2 separate regions of the Homo sapiens genome follow, and region 1 is linked to region 2. Evidence: fine-mapped expression QTL. A gene starts in region 2. The other region holds a variant in brackets. All regions are shown on one strand. Distances are between the middles of the regions.

Evidence for each region. PIP is the estimated chance that this variant, and not a neighbour inherited with it, causes the effect.
Region 1: its variant is fine-mapped to the expression of FBL in sun-exposed skin (GTEx, PIP 0.96).

The regions. Positions count from the first base shown.
Region 1 is chr19:39,817,242-39,822,615 of GRCh38, reverse strand. No RefSeq gene overlaps it. Among named protein-coding and RNA genes, the nearest start is that of MIR6719, 9.9 kb to the left of the region's middle. The variant G/A (reference allele first, on the strand shown) is at 3,172.
Region 2 is chr19:39,843,171-39,848,544 of GRCh38, reverse strand. FBL (fibrillarin) reads left to right here and starts at 2,166. Exons shown (of 9, transcript NM_001436.4): 1 at 2,166-2,254. The coding sequence starts at 2,245. RefSeq lists an enhancer at 2,621-3,361.

The sequences.
Region 1 (5,374 bases), 26 kb after region 2:
CTATCAAATAGCCCAGACTTGTTCCTTCCTCTTTAGGTCTCTCCTGAGATGTCACTGCCTTCCTGAGATCTTCCCTCACCACCCTTCTAAATTTGTGACTTATAGTCACATCTATCTTTGCTTCTTTAACTTTATCCTTAGCATTAATCATATTACTGTTTAACACTCTGTAGAATTTATCTGTGTTTATGGTCTGTCTCCCCTGACCCTTACCTCTAGGAGACTGTTGACTTCATCAGGGAAGGGGCTTTTGTCTACTTCCTCCGTTATCTCCAACACATAGAAAAGTGCTTGGCACACAGTTAGGGCTCAGTAACTACTTATCAAATAAACTATTGAAGAGCACATATCTGGATCCCAGCATGGCGGGGACTCTGCCGATCCCCTTTCTACAGAACTCCAAGGAGCTGCCTTAAAGTTTTCTGAGGGCTCAAGATATTCAACAAGTATTTCACCTTGCCTCTTCTTTCTCCTCAGCATTGGGAACACAGAAGAGAACAAAATATTCCCCTACCCCTATAGAACCTACAGTAATAGGGACAGTAATTTAGACTATCAAATAATCACACGTGTGAAATTACCAAGAAAGGTAGAGAGTGTTATAAGAATACTTGATAGGAAATCAAATCCGGATCCTAGGAAATGAGGTTTGAGGTGATGAAGGAGTAGGCATTAACTCCTTTAAGAGATAAGAGTTTGGGATGGTTGGAGCCTAGAGGCTGATGCAGAGCAAGAGGTCAGACCTTGTGTATGCCATAAGGAGTTTGGGTGTTTACCCCACATGTAGTGGGAAGTTGTAGAATTTTAAGCTGGGGACAGGAGCGTGGTCAGGTGTTTGTGTGTGTGTGTATGTGTGTGTGTGTGTTTCCTTCTAAAATTCTTCACACTAAAGTGTACTTTAAAAGACTCCTCTGGCTTCTGTGTGGGGAATTGACTATAAGGCATTAAGGATTAAAGTAGGGAGACCAGTGACAAGGCTGTTACTGTGGAATTAAAATAGCTGTGATTGAAGACAGCCACACATTCTTTGCTGTTTTTCCTATCAAGAGGTGGAGTCTCCTTCCTTCTCCTTATATCTGAGCTGGCCCTGAGATTTGTTTTGACCAATAGAATACAATGAAAGCAGGCTGGGTGCGGTGGCTCATGCCTGTAATCCCAGCACTTTGGGAGGCTGAGGCAGGTGAATCACTTGAGGAAAGGAGTTCGAGACCAGCCTGACCAACATGGAGAAACCCTATCTCTACTAAAAATACAAAAAAAAAAAAAAAAATAGCCAGGTGTGGTGCACTCCTGTAGTCCCACCTACTCTGGAGGCTGAGGCAGGAGAATCACTTGAACCCGGGAGGTGGAGGTTGCAGTGAACCAAGATCATACCACTGCACTCCAGCCTGGGTGACAGAGTGAGACTCTTTCTCAAAAAAAAAAAAAAAAAAATACAATGAAGATGATGCTGTACTAAATGGAGGCCTAGGCTTTAAGAGACCTGGCAGATTCTGCTTCTACTCTTGGAGCCCTGCCCTTTCTATAGATCTGCCCCAGCCCGCGGCTGTTCCAACTTTTAGCTGATGTGCAGGCGTGCAAGTGATGCCATCTTGGGATGGCCTAACTCCCATTCCAGTTGACACCATGTGGAGTAGGAATGAACCATCTCAAATCCCCTGACCCTTTGAGCCTTGTCCAAATTGCAGAATCATGAGCAAAGAAATGGTTGCTATTTTATGCCCCTGTGGCTTAGGATGCTTTGTTACACAGCAATAGCTAACTGAAACAAGCTAATATTTTTTTAAGATCTTACCATTTTATGTATTAGCTCATTTAATCCTCAGTCACCGTATGTGGTACTACTACTGTTCCCATTTTACAAACGAGGAAATGAAGGCACACAGAAGCTAATAAAGTACTAGTAAAGCGCCTGGCACAAAGCACTGAATATGTGATAGCTATTATTATCAGCATCATGTTCATCAGCATTACAATTTTCACAATTGTTGAAGAAGTGGCGGTCAGATGAATAAACACATTAGTAACCCACTTCCACTTCTTTTTCTTCTTCTTCTTCTTCTTTTTTTTTGTTTTTAAACAGGGCCTGACTCTGTCACCCTGGCTGGAGTCACTGCAGCCTAGACCTCTTGGGCTCAGGTGATCCTCCTGCCTCAGTCTCCTGAGTACTTGGGACCACAAGCATGCACCACCACACCTGGCTAATTTTTGTATTTTTTGTAGAGATGGGGTTTCACCATGTTTCCTAGAGTGCTCTCGAACTCCTGGGCTCAAGTGATCCACCAACCTTGGCCTCCCAAAGTGCTGAGATTACAGGCGTGAGCCACTGCGTCCAGCCAACCCACTTCTTAGTGATGTGATTTTAGCCATTTTCTTGGAAGGACTAGTAGAGAGATGGAAAGACATCGAGTCTTTGGTGATGTTGTTGAAGTGCTGGATCAGGCCTCACTTGGAGTGAGTTACCTCTAGACTTTCTCATTAGGGAATTCAACATATCTCTATCGTTTAAGCCAACTATATTGTTGAATTGAGTTTTCTATTACTTAGAATCAACAATATCCTAACTGATTCCAGGGTTTTCTTATTTGTTGAGTCATCAGATCTGGCTATTTACTACATGCCAAGCATTTTTAGGTGCTGGTATTATTAATAGTAGCAAACAAGACCCCCGAAAGCCCTGTCCTCCTGGAGCCTGCATTCCAGTGGGCAAGATGAATGCTAATATTAGTGAACAGAGCTGTAGAAGTTGAGGGTTGGAAGACTAGAGAGTGGGAAGAGGTGCTATTTTAGATAGAGGGGTTAAAGAAGACCTCTTTGAGAAAAACGTTAATGGACCTCACAGAAAGGGAGGACACCAGCTGGCTGTATGTATATTCTGGGAAGAAGGACATTCCAGGTAGAAAAAACCAGCAAATTCAAAGGCCCCGAGGCATGCTTGGTGTGCTGGAGGAGCAGAAAGGAGTGAACTGGACCTGACTGGACACAGTGGGAGGGAAGGAGACCAAGGCAAGGTCAGGTGGGACCGGGAGGCCATGGGAAGGACTTGAATTTGAAGCTGATGAGATGTGTGGCAGGGAGAGCATGGTGAGCTGAGGCGATGTGATCTACCACGGTAAGAGGGTTCCTCTGGCTCCCATGTGGCTACTAGGGTGGAAGCAGGATGCCAGTGAG[G/A]AGGCCACTGTGCAGTCCAGCTGAGATGATAGTGGCTTGGCCAGGGTGCTAACGGGGCGGTGGGGAGATGTGGTCAGATTTTGCATATAATTTGAAGGGAGAATCAGGTATGTAGGGTAAGAAAGAAGAGTCAAGGACCACACTATGGCGTTTAGTCTGCACAGAGGAAGGAGGGAGTGCCATTAACTGTATGGACAAGACTGAGAGAGAGTGTGGGCGTGTTTAGCCTCTGACTGGACCCACTGGCCAAACAGGAGCTTATACAAGACTGGCATTGAAGGGTGAGATCTGGGCTGGGAGTAGTTGGCATATTTATGGTATTAAAGCCCAGGATGGGATCACTAAGGGAGGGTGTATAGATGGAAGTGTGGGCTGAGAATGAGAGCAGGGAGGCCCGTGAGGAGGTTGCTGCAATAATCTAGGTGAGATGACAGTGGCCTGTACCAGGGCAGGGGCAGAATGAGTAGTCATTGGAGTCTGGGTGCATTTTGAAGGCAGAACTCACTGTGATTGGTTGTGGGTAGTGATGGAAAGAACCTGACAAGGGCTTCATGAGAACAGAATAGAAGCAGAAGTGAGACAGTGGTGTGACATTCCTCCTTTCCACTGGGCCCTGTGGTCTCTGCTTCTCTTTGCATTGGCTGCTTCCTGTTCTCAGGCAGCTGGGTTGGTCCTGGGTGGACTCTTGCCCCCACTCTATGTGATCTTCCAGCTCAGTTACCCGCAGCCCCTCAGTCTTCATTCCGAATTTCCCAGATAGGAATGGGATTTCCAGGGTCGGGTATCCAACCCTGCTCAACTCACTGGAGCTGGAGGGTTCCTATAGTGATGACTGTCTGCTCAGAAGGGCTGTGGACTGGGCAGGCCCCCCAAACATTCACAGTCACCATGTGTTTCTGACACTTGGTGTACAGGGCGGACATGTGGGTGGGCAGGTGTGGCAGGGGTTGGAGATGATTTGACCCTCTTTTGGCTGATGGGTGAGACAGACCATTTATATTGCCTCAGATGTGTCCTGGATTGAGCAAACAGGAAAGGGGATACCAGGAAGGTGGATCTGGCAGGCCTTGGGCTGTGAAGCGTTAAGGGTCAGTTGGGAGGATTCAGGCGCAGCTTCTGCCTGTTCATGGGTATTCCCAGAGGAGTCAGGGAGACACGCATTACTCTCAACTCAAGAGAGACACAGCAATGGCTGAGACACAGCAATGGCTGAGACAGCCTCCACCTTGCCCTCGCAAAGCTCACAGTCCAGTGGGGAAGACAACCCCAACGGCAGACAGTGACCAGGGCTGGGATGGGGAGGCAGAGGGGTTGGGGCCAGGATAGGGGAGCCACAGGGGGACTGTGGGAGCCAGAGGCAGCTCCTGACCCAGTCTGTGGTGTCAGGTGGGACTTCCTGGCGTGGGGAGCATGTAAGATGAGATCTGAAGGATGAGTCAAACAAAGCGTGCTTTGGAACTCCGCGGGGGACCACCTCGAGCCATATTGCAGAGGAGACTTAAAGTTTTGTGAACGTTTTAAAATTTAATAATTTTAGATTTACAGACAAGTTGCAAAGATGATACAGGGACTTCCCTATACCTACACCCAACTTCCACCTAGTGTTAGCATCTTACATAATTATTGTATATTTGTCAAAACTGAGAAATTAACATGGATTAATATTCTGTTAAACTCCAGACTTGAATCCTATTTCTCCTGTTTTTCCATTAATGTCCTTTTTCTGTTCCAGGATCCAATCCAGGATACCATGTTGCATTTGTTGGTCATTTCTCGTTGGCCTCCTCCAATCTGTGACAATTTCTCAGTCCTTCCTTGTTTTTCATGACCTTGACAGTTCTGAGGAGTACTGGTGAGATGTTTTTGTAGAATGGCCCTCAGTCTGAGGTTGTCTGACATTTTGCTCGTGGTTAGACTGGGATTTTAGGCTTTGGGAAGAATGCTCACTGAGGTGAGGTTAACCTGATCACTTCATGAAAGTGGTGTCTGCAGATTTCCCAACGATAATACCACTATTTTCCCTTTACTCATTTGTTAGAAGCAAGTCACTAAATCCAGCCCACACTCAGAGGAGAGCTAAGCCTGATTCCTGGAGGGAAATAGGGAGATACTTGGAGGCTGCACAAATATCCCATTTCTCCTTCAAGTTTACCCACACATTTTAGCATTCATCAGTGGACCCGGTCTGTAGCAGTTATTACCG
Region 2 (5,374 bases):
CTCTGGGCCAACACTGTTTGGGAACCTGTCTGTCTCTCCTATTGGACTGGCAGCTCCAGGAGGACAGGACCCGGGGCTGTTTTAGCCACCATTGTGTCCCCAGCACAAGACCAACAGGCACCTCCACCACTAATTACTTACCGATAGAGCCAATTTCAGGTCTTCAGAGCAAGCTAGCAGGCAAAGTATCTCAGAAGCAGGAGATGGTGCCAGGATTCCAAGAAATAGGGCTGGAATCCCCTAAATCTGCACTGCACTCTGAGTACTTTTGTCCTTTAGAAGAAAAATATTAATTAGAAGGCAAATAGTAAAATCCATGTGAAATAGGTAACATTATCCGGAATTGGACCCACTGGAATCATTGCACATCTAGAAATCCAGAATAGACTCAACTATTTCATCTCATAGTTTTTAAAAAGTTTTTTTTGTTTGGTTTTTGTTTTTGTTTTGGGACAGGGGTGTCGCTCTGTGACCCAGGCTGGAGTGTAGTGGTGCAGTCATGGCTCATTTCAGCCTAGACCTACTGGGCTCAAAGGATCCTCCTGCCTCAGCCTCTTGAGTAGCTGGGACTACAGGTGCAAGCAACCATACCCAGCTAATTTTTTATTTTTTGTAAAGATAAGGTCTCACTCTGTAGCCCAGGCTGGCCTTAAGCTCCTGGGCTCAAGCGATCCTCCTGCCTCGGCCTCCCAAAGTGCCTGGATTACAGGTGTGAGCCACTGCCCCGACCGGTTCTGAAAAGTTTAAGCAGATTTTCCATCATAATATCTAAACAATCTTTCAGGAATGTTTCTGTGCAAATTGGTGGCATTCCACAGCTGGAACACTGTACACAGAGAACTCACAACGGTATGAGGCCATCCATTCATTCAACAAACATTTACTGGGCACCCAGAGGGCTGTCCTAGGCCTAGAGTGATAGAGCAGTGAATGGAACAGAGTCAACATCTAGGCTCTGGACTGGTAGGTTCTTCTGGAGTTTTTCGGTAACTTCTCATAACAGCAGTTGTCTTGCTTTGCAGAATGAATATAGGGATGGATACTGATATTACACAATTACAAAGCCCAAAATTCTTAATACTTAAGCAGAATCTGTTGACCCCTGACGCCGCTCTCTGCCCCCACTCTGATCTGTCCATCCTTTTCTTCTGATTCACGGCAGCAGCCAGTCCTTGGTTTTCCTGCTTTCACCCTCACTCCTGCAGTCTGCTTCCCACATGCAGCCAGAGGGACCTGTGTCAGATCACATTCCTTCTCTGCTTGGAACCCTTCCATGGTTCCATCTTACTGCCTAAGTCCTCACTATGTCCCACAAAGCTCCGCACAATCTGCCCTTGTTAGCTACCCGCCCTTATCTCCTCTTACTCTCCACCTTGCTCACTTTGCCCCACCCACCCTCCTCATTGTCTCTCCAACTTCCCATATCTTTCCTTCCTCAGGGCCTCTGCATCTGCAGATCTTTTCCCTGCCTGGAACTCTCTTCCCCTAGATAGGTGCATGCCTCACTCCTCACTTCCTTCAGCCCTTTAGCTCAAAAGTCTCCTGATGCATTCCTTGACCACCGTGCCAAAAAAACAAAAATCATTTGCCCTCCAAAATCTCTATCCCCTTTCCCTGCTGTTATTTTCTCCAAAGCACTTATCGCTTTCAAACATTCAACATGTTTGGTGTCTATTTCCTCCATTAAAAAGATGAACTCCAGGAGAGTGGAGATTTTTATGTCTCGTACACCGCTGTATTCCCAGCTCCTAGAACAGCACCTGGTACACACGAGGTGCACTGTAAATGTTTTTCGGATGTTTGAATGGAAGCCCAGAGTCGGTCACTGTTCTTGGGGCTGGAAATGTATTGGGGAAGCCTTTTTGGGTGTACAGGGGCCAGAGGGATTTAGCTAGGAATACAAAAGAGGGCACAGCCCGTGCGAAGGCTATGAGCCCTGATTATTGGGGTGCTCGCATTGGGGAAGAGGAAACCGGAAGCGAGTTTAGGGCGACCGCTGCACAGGCAAAGGCTGGGAAGGCAGAGAGCGAGGGCAGCGGGTTGCGTGTCGACAGGCTCGAGAATCCAGGCTCACTGCGCGTGCGCCGAGCTCCGGGCGGGGAAGGGGCCCGGGGGCGGGACTACGGGGTGGCGTCACGCAGCGCACGTCGCCGCGCGCCTGCGCTCTTTTCCACGTGCGAAAGCCCCGGACTCGTGGAGTTGTGAACGCCGCGGACTCCGGAGCCGCACAAACCAGGGCTCGCCATGAAGCCAGGTCAGGCTGGGGTGAGGGTCCGGGGTCAGGGACGGAGGCCGGGCGGGAATCCGGGTGCCAGGCCAGAATCGGAGGGGTGGGGCCTTGGCCTGGGGGCAGGGGTTCTGAGCACGGGTTCCAGTCTCCTGTGGGAAGGGGGATTCTGATTCCAGCAGGTCTAGGGGTTTGTGACTGGCTTCAGAGGTCACGGTCGTGAGTCGAAGAAGGCCGTGGGCCTGGCATTGGGGGTGTTGACGTGGGGTTCGTCTCATTGAGGCCGTCTAATAGGGATTTTGGATATTGGGCAGGAGGCGGCACTCAAGGGTCTTGGGCTAGAGTTTGGATTCAGGCATCTGGAGTCTTGGATCGCTGGGCGTGTTTTGGGAATCAGGCTTGGGTCGGAGATGGAGAGTTCCTGACCTTGGGTCCTGGAGCTGTGTGTGGGAAGCCCCCATTTGCCTTCCCTGTCGCTGCCACCACCACCATCCCCTTATCCCGCATCCCAGCTTTTCCGAGTGGGCCGGAGTGGATGAGGACTCCCCGGTTGGCCGTGTGCGGCGCTCTTCGGCTCACTTTCCCGCCTTCTGCACTTACAGTGGGGCGGATCCCCGGGGATGGAGTGGAGATTTGGGGATTAAGATTTCCACCTCCGGGACGAGACTTAACAAGCTCGGCATTAGTCTGGGGTGGTGGGGCGGGTGGTTGTCACAGGAGGTAAGTAGTTTTATTCTTAAGATTTTCCACTAGATTCTGCTGAAACCACTCCCTTCATGGTGGAATGATGAGGGGGTCCTGGCTTTGACAGCAGAAGGGCCTCAGTTCAGTGTGTCAGCTCTTGCTCAGCTTCTTAGCCTGCTGTGTGAACTTGGGCAAGTGGCTTTACCTCTCTGAGCCTCTGTTTTCTCATCAATAAAATGGCGCCAGTTAGGATTAAGCGACGTTAAAAAAAATAGCACAGTGCTTGACATATAATAGTATTAGCTCTAATTGTTACCTTTATCTTTCTCAAAGAGAACAACATTAGAATCCTTCTCGGTGGTGCCTGAGCACTTCCTCCATCTGGCCTGCCCAACCCGCACTCATCTGTGTGAGAACTTGCTTCATTGAGTTTGGAGAATTTCCACCATGGCCCAAAGGGTCTGTTTTCCTAGTACAGGCTTTCTTTTTCTTTTGTGTGTGTGTTTGTGTGGAGAGATGGGGGTCACCTGGCAGGAGATTTGTGGATCTGTGCCCTTCTCCCAAGTTCCCTTTCTCTTCCGTGTTTGGGGATCTCTTGATGAAGTGGGGTGGGGGATTGTAGGCCAGGTATGCTGAGATCCTGGCTTGCCTGCAGGCATTCTGGTCTGTGATTCCCTCATAAATGGAGGATACCCGTTCTTCCAACCTTCCTCCATGTGTGGTAGAATGTGAAGTTGTAAAAGTTGTCAGGTGTTAGCTCTTTAGTAAGGATTTTAGCCTGAGTGAGAAAAGAACCCTTTGGGAGATTTTTGAGCAGGGGCGTGGTGCAGTCTGACATTTTTAAAAGGGATTCTTTTTGCTTCGATGTGTGAAAGACCTCAGGGTGGCAAAAGTGGAAGCAGGCACATTGGTGGGAAGCTTGTTGCTGTAATCTAGGAGATGGTGTGGTGGACCAGGATGGGAGCAGTGGACATGCTGACAGTTTTACATGCTTTTGAAGACAGAACCAACAGATTGTATGTGGGTGTGTGATCGGAGTCAAGGATAACCAAGGGTTTGGGGGTGTGTAACTGGAAGGATGGAATTGCCATTTTTGAGATGGAGAAGGCTGTGGAAGGAGAGCAGATTTTAAATCAGGGGGTTTATGGACCCCCCTCCCCCCAAAAAAAGAACTTACTGGAAAAGTTTGTGTGAACATGTGTTTTTTCTGAGGACTGGGTACTTTTGGTACATTTTCCCCCAAAAGCTCCAGGACCTGAAACGGATTGAGATGTTTTGAGTATCTGGGATTGAAAGTTTACACTCATGCCCACTCCGCCCCAAGCACATGCCAGTACTTCCTTTCTGTTAGGCCTGGGTTGAGACTTTCATAAGCCTAGCTGTGGCATCTCCCCTAAATGAAGGTCTTGGCTTTGGAAAACTGTTGGAGGGCTTGGGCAAGAAAATTGAGATCTGAGTTGCTGTTTCAAAAACAGCACTTATTAGTTGCTGTGTGGAAAGTGGACTGTAGGGGGAGTAGAACATTAAAAAGTGAACAACTCTTAGTTATGTTCTAGAGTTTTGAAAAGGAAACTTCATTTTAAAAGATCAAATTAGGAGTAGCTATTAAAAGTTACATTTTCATCTTTAATAGAAAGATGAAAAAAGAACTAACTGGAAAAGTTTGTGTGAACATGTGTTTTTTCTGAGGAATGGGTACTTTTGGTACATGAGGAGGGAAGAGGAGACGCGTACCCCTGAGTTTGAATGATGATGTTCAAAGTAGGTGCCAGATAGTATATATGTGATGTGCTCTGTGGGTACAAGTCATTTAATCTTTACAACCCTATAGGATGAGCACTGCATTTTTTTTATTTTTATTTTTTTGATACAGAATCTCTCTCTGTCACCCAGGCTGGAGTGCAGTGGCACCATCTCAGCTCACTGCAACCTCCGCCTGTGTTCAATTGATGCTTGTGCCTCAGCCTTTTGAGTAGCTGGGATTACAGGCATGCGCCACCACGCCCAGCTAATTTTTTGTATTTTTAGTAGAGACAGGGTTTCACTATGTTGGCCAGGCTGGTCTTGAACTCCTGGCCTCAAACTGTCCGCCTGCCTGGGTCTCCCAAAGTGCTGGGATTACAGGCATGAGCTATGGCGCGTGGCCTGGCACTGTATTGTCTCCATGTCTTACAGATGAAGTTTTCAAGACCCCTATGAACCTTCCTTACTAGGGTCGAGAGTGGCAGCAACATTGCCTATCTCTCCATATGCGATACTTGAGGGGAGTGACCGGCACTTCCCTGGTCACCATCTGATGGATTGTGTGCTTTCTGAACAAATAGAGGGTGCTTTCTCCTTGAGGCAGGGCCCAGGGTTTAAGAGTCATCAGCTCAGTGCTCATTTAACATTTATTGAGCCCATACTTTGTGCCAGATGTTGTGCAGGGTTTTGGGGATGCGGTGGTGACCAAAACAGTTAAAA